Linked DNA regions of Homo sapiens. Each later gene encodes a partner of the first gene's protein in a complex. Each region holds a gene or a part of one and is shown in the gene's direction. Other genes may lie near its edges.

What was found.
Region 2: the proteins of PCNA (region 1) and LIG1 are in contact, whole or in part, in a cryo-EM structure (PDB 8B8T), measured with the Homo sapiens proteins. Residues at the interface, in NP_002583.1 of Homo sapiens: Met40, Ser43, His44, Val45, Leu47, Leu126, Gly155, Arg210, Ala252, Pro253, Lys254, Ile255; in NP_000225.1 of Homo sapiens: Ala361, Gly363, Arg364 (codon at 1,670), Ser368 (codon at 1,682), Ser388 (codon at 1,742), Thr389 (codon at 1,745), Gln390 (codon at 1,748), Arg391 (codon at 1,751), Leu392 (codon at 1,754), Met393 (codon at 1,757), Leu394 (codon at 1,760), Val432 (codon at 2,311).
Region 3: PCNA (region 1) and MCM2 share a complex: the UniProt entries of both Homo sapiens proteins name them as parts of the replisome complex.

The regions. Positions count from the first base shown.
Region 1 is NC_000020.11:5,114,408-5,117,066, reverse strand, and holds the end of PCNA (proliferating cell nuclear antigen), read left to right. Parts: intron 1-1,494; coding exon 1,495-1,618; intron 1,619-1,704; coding exon 1,705-1,784; 3' UTR 1,785-2,114; downstream 2,115-2,659. UniProt on the Homo sapiens protein: Auxiliary protein of DNA polymerase delta and epsilon, is involved in the control of eukaryotic DNA replication by increasing the polymerase's processibility during elongation of the leading strand.
Region 2 is NC_000019.10:48,135,703-48,139,355, reverse strand, and holds part of LIG1 (DNA ligase 1), read left to right. Parts: intron 1-1,667; coding exon 1,668-1,834; intron 1,835-2,271; coding exon 2,272-2,348; intron 2,349-3,230; coding exon 3,231-3,322; intron 3,323-3,576; coding exon 3,577-3,653.
Region 3 is NC_000003.12:127,611,867-127,615,519, forward strand, and holds part of MCM2 (DNA replication licensing factor MCM2), read left to right. Parts: intron 1-3,653. UniProt on the Homo sapiens protein: Acts as a component of the MCM2-7 complex (MCM complex) which is the replicative helicase essential for 'once per cell cycle' DNA replication initiation and elongation in eukaryotic cells.

The DNA.
Region 1 (2,659 bases):
ATATTAGCTTACATGTTGTGGGTCCAATTGGTAGCCCATTTTAAAGGTGGAGAAGCAGGCTGAGCAACCTTAAGTGACAATTTAGCCAAAGTCACAGGCTGTAGGAATCAAAGGTTAAACAGGAAGGAGACTTCTCACTAAGGCTAGAAAGCAGACTCCATGCAACTTTGAGAGTACCTAGAGAGCCCTTGTTTAACCAAAATAGAAAGAACATGGCAAAACCCCATCTCTACTAAAAATATAAAAATTAGCCGGGTGTGGTGGCGCACACCTGTAATCCCAGCTACTTGGAATGCTGAGATGGGAGAATGACTTGAACCGAGGAGGCGGAGGTTGCAGTGAGCCCAGATCATGCCACTCCCCTCCAGCCTGGGTGACAGAGCAAGATTCCATCTTAAACAAACAAAAAAAACTCGCTAACCTGGGCATAAATTAAAACTTTGTAAATCAAGGACAAAGGTCCTAACCTCATAACCTTGTTAGGATTAAATACGGTAGCATTAAAGAGCTTAGCATATGCTGTGTGTGGCATATTATAAGCTTACAATAAATACTATATATTGCTCTCTTGTCCCTTGAATGGGTAGTCAACATTTAGTTTAAATAAAGGTAAAATTCAGTTGAAAGGTTTTTTTTTAAATTAATAAAGTCTAGGAGCTGATTCTTTATCTGTTTCCTGAATCACATTTCCACTCCTGCCAACCTCGTTTTTTTCTTTTTCTGTTTTTCTTTGTTTTTGAGACAGGGTCTTGCTCTGTCCACCCAGGCTGGAGTGCGGTGGTGCAGTCGGTTCACTACAGCCTCAAACTCCAGGGCTTAAGTGATCCTCCTGCCTCAGTTTCCCAAGTAGCCGGGACTACAGGTGTGTGCCAACACACCTAGCCTGGTTTCCCCTAATTTCATTTTCCCCCTTCCATTACAATCTATTTGTTGAAGAAATTAGATCATTTATTAAGTTTTCCAGAGTTTGGATTTTGCTGATTGCATTCCTGTGTATACATAAATTCCTCTACCCTGTGTGTCCTACAGACTGGTAGCTATAGCCCTGGAGCCTTGATATTCAGGGTGTTTTGTTTCGGGGGTGAGAGAGCAAGAATATAGGTGGTGGTGTGTGCCTCTAGTAGGAGGCACAGGGTGTCTGGATGTGTTTGCAATGTTAGCAGCTATAATAGTCATTGTCTAGATCCATTAAGTCATTAATTAGAGTTTGCAGAGCTGAAATTAATACGTTTTATTCACTTATTGGCTGCTTATTAGAAAAACTTCCATAAAGAAAAGCTTTCCCATATTATATAATTTGGTTATCTAAATTATAGCTATAGGAAAGACAAGCTAGATAATCGAGTCTTTTGCTTTATGTATCAGTCTTCAAAATTTTCATAGCTCCCTCCAAAGTGACCAATACAAGTGTTTGTGGGTTTTTATAAATATATAATGAGCTAATAGATTGCAACTTTCTTGATGTTTTTCAATGATGAATCTTTTGTTTTGTAGGTTACCATAGAGATGAATGAACCAGTTCAACTAACTTTTGCACTGAGGTACCTGAACTTCTTTACAAAAGCCACTCCACTCTCTTCAACGGTGACACTCAGTATGTCTGCAGATGTACCCCTTGGTAAGATAATAAATTTGAACCTTGTTTTGTAGGTAGTCATATGTGATACATACTCCTCAGTAATTAACCATCTTCCTGTCTTTCAGTTGTAGAGTATAAAATTGCGGATATGGGACACTTAAAATACTACTTGGCTCCCAAGATCGAGGATGAAGAAGGATCTTAGGCATTCTTAAAATTCAAGAAAATAAAACTAAGCTCTTTGAGAACTGCTTCTAAGATGCCAGCATATACTGAAGTCTTTTCTGTCACCAAATTTGTACCTCTAAGTACATATGTAGATATTGTTTTCTGTAAATAACCTATTTTTTTCTCTATTCTCTGCAATTTGTTTAAAGAATAAAGTCCAAAGTCAGATCTGGTCTAGTTAACCTAGAAGTATTTTTGTCTCTTAGAAATACTTGTGATTTTTATAATACAAAAGGGTCTTGACTCTAAATGCAGTTTTAAGAATTGTTTTTGAATTTAAATAAAGTTACTTGAATTTCAAACATCACAGGGCAGTGTCTTCATTTTGACCAGGACTGTTGGAAGTATCCTACTGAATTCCCAGCTACAGCTACCCTTTCGTTTAAATGGTTTTTCAGTTTAGAGCAGCCTGATGGAGATCAAAAGGATTTCAAATACAGTAGGTTACTAGATATTTTAGGGGATTCACTTGTCAAACTTGTTATTCCAATTTGAGCTCAAGGAACAAGTGAGAGAGTAGTACAAATCCTGTGTATTTCATTTTACTTGGCAAAAATTAATACTCTTCAGAAGCTTAATGTACCGAAAGTCGTGTGGGCTTTATAAGATGTTAATGGAGTGTTTCTTTTTAGCCTGGGGAATCTTACAAGAGTCTTGGATGTTTCAGTAGAGCTGTAATGGGGCCCAAGGAGTATGGTTGTACAAAATTTCTCTAGTATAAGTACACTTTGCAACTTCACTCAAAGGATGAAGATGTCTTAAATTCCACGGATGTTGGATCCAACCAAGAAAGTGAAAAAGCCCTGAAGTTGTGAAGAAAGACTTAAAAACATTCCCACTAATAGCTACAAG
Region 2 (3,653 bases), on another chromosome or scaffold:
GTGAGGAGGCAGGAGGAATGCCTCCAGGATCTCCCTGGGTGACTGGATGGATGACAAAGCCGTCGGCAGCTTGGGACCCTGGTGAGGGGCAGGCACCTGCAGGGGGCATTAATCACCCCAGCGTGGGGCAGGCATGAGCAACCTCTATCTGTGGGCCCCCAGGGCCATCCAGGAAGTTTGGAAACGGGTCTGAGGCTCACCAGGTCTGGCTCAGAGCCCAGGGTTCGGGCTGGTCAGTGTAGGAGGGATGACCACCCACTGGTGGGTTCTCATCCGCCTGGGGAGAGGATGTGCTGGGAGCACTGGAGCTGGCTTAGGGCCATGGGCACCAACATTTAGGGAAGGCAGGGGTTTCAGGCTTTCATGAGAGGACAGAGGGACTGAGAAAGGTTGACTTGGATCAGGAAAGAGTTACGGGCTTATGGGAGCCAGAGGAGATGAGACTCAAGATTTTCTCACTCATTCACTCAAGATGTGTTTCGGGAGCACTGACGTCATACCAGACCCAGCACACACGGGGTCGGTTAAGAATACTCTGAGCTGCAGGTAACAGAAAACCCAACTACATTGGCTTGGACAAAGAAGGATCTGTTTTTCTCACAAAAGAAGTTGCAGATGCTGGCTTTCCTGCCCAACAATCCATGGCAGCTGGGGCCTCTTCCACTGTCTCATGCCTCCACCCTTGATGGGTCGTGTTCACACTCACACTGCTCTCCGTGCCGCCTTGTGGCCCCCGTGGCTGTCCAAGTCCCGGGTTTGTTGTGAGTTGTTGGCCACTTTGGAGAATCCCGTCCCCTTTGATGTGTGATTCGATAACATCCCATTGGTGAGGCTCACACTGTCGGCTCTCCCATTTGTGGCAGTTTCGCTTCAGGCGCGAGGCCCACCTTCATGTGCTCTGTGCCGCGGCTGAGCATCTGTGGACTGAAACGCGCACTTGTTCGTTCATTACGGATTGCTTTCCCTTTCATTCTTTTCTGTGTTAGGGTTAGGGCGTTATCTCGATAGGTGTAGGCAGGTTATGTTATCTCCACATTTTATTTCAGACCAGAAAAGAGGTGACACACAGTATCTGGTGACAAGGGTGTGTTGGTTCTGATAGGTTGAGAGCTGCTTGTCACAGCTGTCACCGTGACTTGAGGCTCCATCTCCCCAGCTCTTACACCCAGGCGCCCATGGGACCCAGCTCTGGACAGTAAGTGGGGCCAGAGCACATCCCACGTGTGTAAGCTGGTGGCTCCAAAACAAGCCGAAGGGTCTTTGGTCACTGCCAGAGATGTTCATGACCCGCCAGAGGAAAGGGTCCCTTGGCCTTCTCTGCTCTGTCCACACTCACTTCCCTAGTGACCTTGTCCCGCCTGTGGCTTTAAATCCCATCCGCGCCCTGATGACACCGGCCCAGATGTCTCCCCTGAGTGTGGTCATGCTCGTTCATCCACCGCTTTCCTGGCTCCACGTGCATGTTTGCTGACTTCCTACAGCCAGCGTGGCTGGGGGCACGTTCCCCAAGCCATTTCTACCAAGTGGGTGAGCGTTAGACACAGGGAGGTGCAGGGACTCGCCACAAGCACACACAGCTGGAGAAAATTCATCCAGGCCGCGAGAGAAGGGAGACACGCAGCCACAACTGTCACCCTCGACACCCCCACCCGCGCTCTCCCCTGAAGGTCGGCAGCTGGAGTCCGTCCGGGCTGAGGCAGCCGAGAAAGGCGACGTGGGGCTGGTGGCCGAGAACAGCCGCAGCACCCAGAGGCTCATGCTGCCACCACCTCCGCTCACTGCCTCCGGGGTCTTCAGCAAGTTCCGCGACATCGCCAGGCTCACTGGCAGTGCTGTGAGTGGGGCGGGCCGCTCATCCCGGACCCCAGACATCTTGGGGACCTGAGGCCACGCGTGTGTCAGGAAGGCTTCTGGGTAGACCATCAGCTGGGTCGCATCAGTCCTTCTCATGGGGTGCACAGCTTCCTCTCCTCCTTCCTGCACCCAATCCTAGGGGAGTCTCCTCTTCAGAGTCTAGCAGACCTAATGCCATGGCTGCCACATGACAGGACTCAGTAAATACTTCCTGGATAAAGGGAGAGGGAGGCAAGGAGGAGAGCTAGCTCGTTCTTACTGCCCTAAGAGTGGGCGGCCATGGGAGCTGGGACATGGGGATGGGGTGAGGGAAGGAGGGCAGGTATTCCAAAATGCAGGGCAGCAGCACGGCTGGTGGGGTGGAGGTGTGGTCCCTGCCTTCACCAGGCACTGACGGCTCTTCCCCTGACTCTCCAGTCCACAGCCAAGAAGATAGACATCATCAAAGGCCTCTTTGTGGCCTGCCGCCACTCAGAAGCCCGGTTCATCGCTAGGTAAGCGTGTGGGCCTGTGAGGCTACAGAGGGGGACTGCAGGCTCGGAGGTGAAAGGAGGGAGGGACTGGCAGCTGGAATCATCACAAATGCCCTGACCATCCTTGGATGAGAAAAGCATGAGCAGGAGGCCCAGCCCCTAAAGAGTGGGAAGGGACACCATTTCCTTTCACAGGCCAGCTTCTGTCCCTTGGTAGTGCTGTCTAGAGAAGGCCCCTGGGCCCCTGTGGGTGAAGCATGCTGTGATTGATTGGTGAGGTCTGCCTCGGCTTGGGCGCGGGCCCTGCAGCAGGAAGCCAGGGTTTGTTTGCCATGACAGTGAGAGCAAATCCATTGAGGGCTCACATCATGGAGCATTTCTTGGGAGCCCTGCCCTGTGCCCCGTGCCTTACCTCATCAGTTCCTACCAGCAACTCTGTGAGACTGGTCTTGTTACCCTCACCTCCAGTTTATAGAAGGGGAAATGGAGACATGGGGAGGCAAACTAAGCCACTTGTCTCCTGCCACTGGCTCAAAGCAAGGACCATGCTGGGGTCCTGACCATTACAGTCACCAGGGCGGGCGCCAGGCTCAGTTCTCTCCCTGACTCATCCTCCTCAAGCCTCGCCAACCCCTCAGGGCAGCTGAGATGGGAGGTGCTGGTGCACCTACTTGTGCCCCTCCCCAGTCTATGCTAGTGGGCAGGATCATTACTGCCTGGCTCAGTTTCCTCATCTGTCACATGGGGCTGTGTGATATCTGGGGTCCCTTCCAGGCTCTGAAGATTCTTCTGGTTTTTGAGGAGAGGGTCTACATACATCAAGGTCGAGGAGATCAGAGAAGGGAGGAGGCAAGATTGGGGAGGTGCAGACAAGCCCCCTTCCCTGGCCTGCTCTCTCCCCAGGTCCCTGAGCGGACGGCTGCGCCTTGGGCTGGCAGAGCAGTCGGTGCTGGCTGCCCTCTCCCAGGCAGTGAGCCTCACGCCCCCGGGCCAAGGTGAGCTCCTGTGGCCCGTCTCTGCATCCCTCGCTGGAGTTACCTCAGGCTTCCCCCCTCCTCTTCAGAGGCCCATGCCCGCCCCTTCCCCAGCGGGCCCCTGCCATACCAGGCTCCTCTCTCCTGGGTGGGGGGGAGGGGGCGTCTTGGGCCGCGGCATCTGCATTCCTTGCCATACAGCAAACCACCCACTGCACCCTGGTGTAGCCAAGGATGTGGGTGCCTTCCAAAGCCTCTGGTGGGTCTTTTCTTAGAATTCCCACCAGCCATGGTGGATGCTGGGAAGGGCAAGACAGCAGAGGCCAGAAAGACGTGGCTGGAGGAGCAAGGC
Region 3 (3,653 bases), on another chromosome or scaffold:
TTTTTTGTATTTTTAGTAGAGACGGGGTTTCACCGTTTTAGCCGGGATGGTCTCGATCTCCTGACCTCGTGATCCGCCCGCCTCGGCCTCCCAAAGTGCTGGGATTACAGGCGTGAGCCACCGCGCCCGGCCAACAGCTGACTTTTTGTATTTGTTTTTATTTTGAGTTAGTTATCATCCTTGAGGGATCCGGAGACTTCACATAGAAATCCGGATGCTTTTTGAAAATCCAAGATCTGTGGGTGCTGGCTCTGTGTTCCTCTCTGGTAACGCTGACGGAGCTGAGGCATAGCTGCCCTTGCAGGTAGGGCCTGTGTCCCCAGGTTTACCCCGTCCCCTACTCTGTCAGTTTCATGGCCCTGCCTGCCTTCCGTGGGCCCTGGACACTGATCTGGTAAAGTATTAAAGAGATCAGGGTCATGCCCAACACTTAGAGATTTTAAAGAACTAACAGAAGCAGCATGCAGTCTGAAGCCAGACTTTTTAGGTTTGAATTTTGGCCTAATCCTTAGGATGGTCAGATGAGTCACCCTTATCTATAGAAATGAGAGGATGAGAGTAAACACTCATAGAGTTGTTATAAAGATCAAATAAATTAGTGCATATAAAGTACTTGGCTGTTGGCGAGTGCTCAGTATCTGGCTGTTACTGTACATGGCTACCAAAGTTAAACTATTTGTACAAAAACTGGATGGAAGAGCCTGTGACAGGCGTGTAGAAAGCATAAGCAGCCAGTAGGTAGGACAAAAATAGCTTTGAGCCTGATGCTTTAGGCATTTTACACACATTATCTCAGGCTCATGGTACCCATGCAGGTGGGTGCTTTTTCTCCGTTTGCTGGGTGGAGCTCACAGTACCCACTCAGGTGGGCACTCTATCCCTGTTTGCTGGGTGCGGAGACTGAGGAGTGCTAGGAAGCAGCACACCTAGAGCCAGGAGGAGCATGAGCTTTGGATTCAGATGCATCTGGGGTCGAGTCTTGCCTCTCCTCTAGGAGAAAATATTTTGACCTGAGCCTTGGTTTCCTCTGTAGGATCGAGAGAAACAAGGTTATTATGAGGATTACATGAGGTAATTCATGGAAAGCGCTGTTATTCCCTGGCAGGTCTGGGATTTGATTCTGCCCCACTTTCCAGCCATTAAATTAGCCTGCTACTCTCTCCTGGAGTAACTGGGTCAGCGGTGGAAGGCACAGCAGGCAGTGTAGGCATTCACACATTTGCGCTGCTTGCCCTCCAGTCCCACAGGGAAGTCCCCCTGGATGCAGTGGTTGCTTTACAGGAGGGGGATTGAGTTGGGCAATCTGCCCTGCATAGCAAGCAGGAAGCTCTTGGCCCTGGAGGGAGACATTACCTCATCCTGCAAGGTTGCTCGCTACAAAAATTATACGGGGAAATGAGCTGGGTTAAGAGGAGTCAAGGATTGGCAGTCTTGGCACATCCAGCACGAGGTGTGTTGGGGCATGAGAGGTCCGTGGAGTGGTCTGCCCAGCATCTGCAGCACAAAGTAAGAGTTTCATAAGAGAGTCATTATACTTACTGAGGACTTAGTATCTGCTTGGCATTGTCTAGGTAATTTCTAGATAGCAATGTTCCTGTGAGGTTTCATCTCTGCCTGTTTTACTGATGAATAAACTAAGGCACAAAAGGTTAGATAAGTTGGCCATAGTCACATAGCAAGTGGCAGAGTCAGCAGCCTGGCTTGAGTCCATGCTCCCAGTGACTGTATTGTGCCAACAGTTGGTGAGTTTATTTGGTTATTGTGAGTTCCATGGGCACTCTGTGTTACATAAGGCCTGGCCCACATTTTAAAACATTGTTACAGAAAATTTCAAACAGGTATGTAGAATGGTGTAGTGAACTTTGACCATTTGTCTTAGTCCATTTTCTGCTGCTACAACAGAATACCATAGACTGGGTAATTTATAATGAACAGAAATTTATTGACTTATGGTTTTGGAGGCTGGAAGTCCAAAATTGAGGGCTGGCATCTGGTGAGGGCCTTCTTGCCATGTCATCCCATGGCAAAAAGGTGAGAGTTAAAGAGACAGAGTGAGAGCCCAGAGGGGGCCAGACTCATCCTTTTACAAGGACCTACTCCCTGGATAGCAGTGCTTTTATCCTCCATTCATGAGAGCAGATCCCTCATGGCCTGATCACCCCTTAAAGGTCCCACCTTTTAATACTGTTAAATGGGGGATTAAGATGCCAACACATGCTTTCTGGGGGGTACATTCAAACTGTAGCACTCTACCCAGCTTCCACAGCTGTCATAGTCACAGCCAATCGAGTGTTCTTAATACACCACCCATTCACCCTTGGTATATTTCAAGGCAAATTCCAGGCATGCCGTTTTTTTCTGTAACTACATCAGTATGTATATGAAAAAGAAAAGACTCTCTTTGAATAAACCTAGCCACAATACCATTATCTCACTTTAAGAGGTGATTAACAATTCCTTAATATCCAATATTCTGTTGTTGTTCACATTTCCCTGATTATCTTACCCCTTCCCCCTGTTTTTTACAGCTTCTTGGAGTCATTATCCAAATAAGATCCATAAGTTGTGATTGGTTGATATCTCTTAAGTCTCATAATCTTTAGATCTTTTCTCCATCTCTTTTTTCCTTGTAATTTTTTGTGGAAGAAACTGGGTCATTTGTTCTGTTGAGCCTTGCAGTCGAGATATTGCTAATTATGTCCCCATTAGACACACACCTCTGTCACCTGTGTTTTCTGTAATTTGGCAGTCAGGCACTGAAGCCTAGTCAGGTAAATGCCTGCTTATTTTCTTTGACTTACTAGTTTTAAAAATAATGAATTGGTTCCCAGGTGACCTGGGTATCATAACAGACAAATAGGCCCGCCGGGTGTTGAGGTTTCCACGCTGCAGGTGTCATCCCTACAATGCTCAAGTGTCCCTTTTTTGCCAGCGTGAACCTATTCATGTTGGCTCCTGAGTTCTGTTGACATGACCCTGGTTGTCTTTGAGTGATTTTTTGCTTTCTGGTAGAAGATATTGCAGGCTTCTCTTGTACATTTCCAGCCCCGGACCTGGAATTGGACATTTCTCCAAGAAGCCCCGTGGGAAGTGTTACTTGCTTTCAGAGGGAGATAGGAGTTAGAGACACCTCTAAAGCTGCATGAATTTGATGGTGCAGGCAGGACATACAGGATGCAGCCTGATGGGGGTGTCTCCCCTCCACCTTCAGGGCTGGTTTTCCTGCCTTAGTCCCCTCTCCCCAGGCGAGGGCCAGTGCTTTCTGAGCTTCTTTGTCTGTCCTACAAGGAGGGAAGGATGTGGGTGTGGCCAGTGCAGGGGGGTATGAAGGCTGAAAGCTATCAAAACATGGCTCTGCTGCAGGTGGAGTTGGAAGCAGTCTCCTACAAGCAAGAAATGTCTTTGATGTCTCTAATTCTATCTAAAATTCATGAAGATTTTGCTCTCTCCCTGTCTCTTTCTTTCTCTCACACACACACTGAAATAGAAATGTTCCAGTGACTCACTAGTTGGAATTACTTCCTGGTGGACACATCTCCCAGATGTGCCACATTTATTGCATTGACGAGGCAGGCACTTGCATGAACTGTCGCATTTGTACCCACCCTTCTGTGAGTTGGATGTTGCCATCTCTCTTTTCCATATGAAGAAAC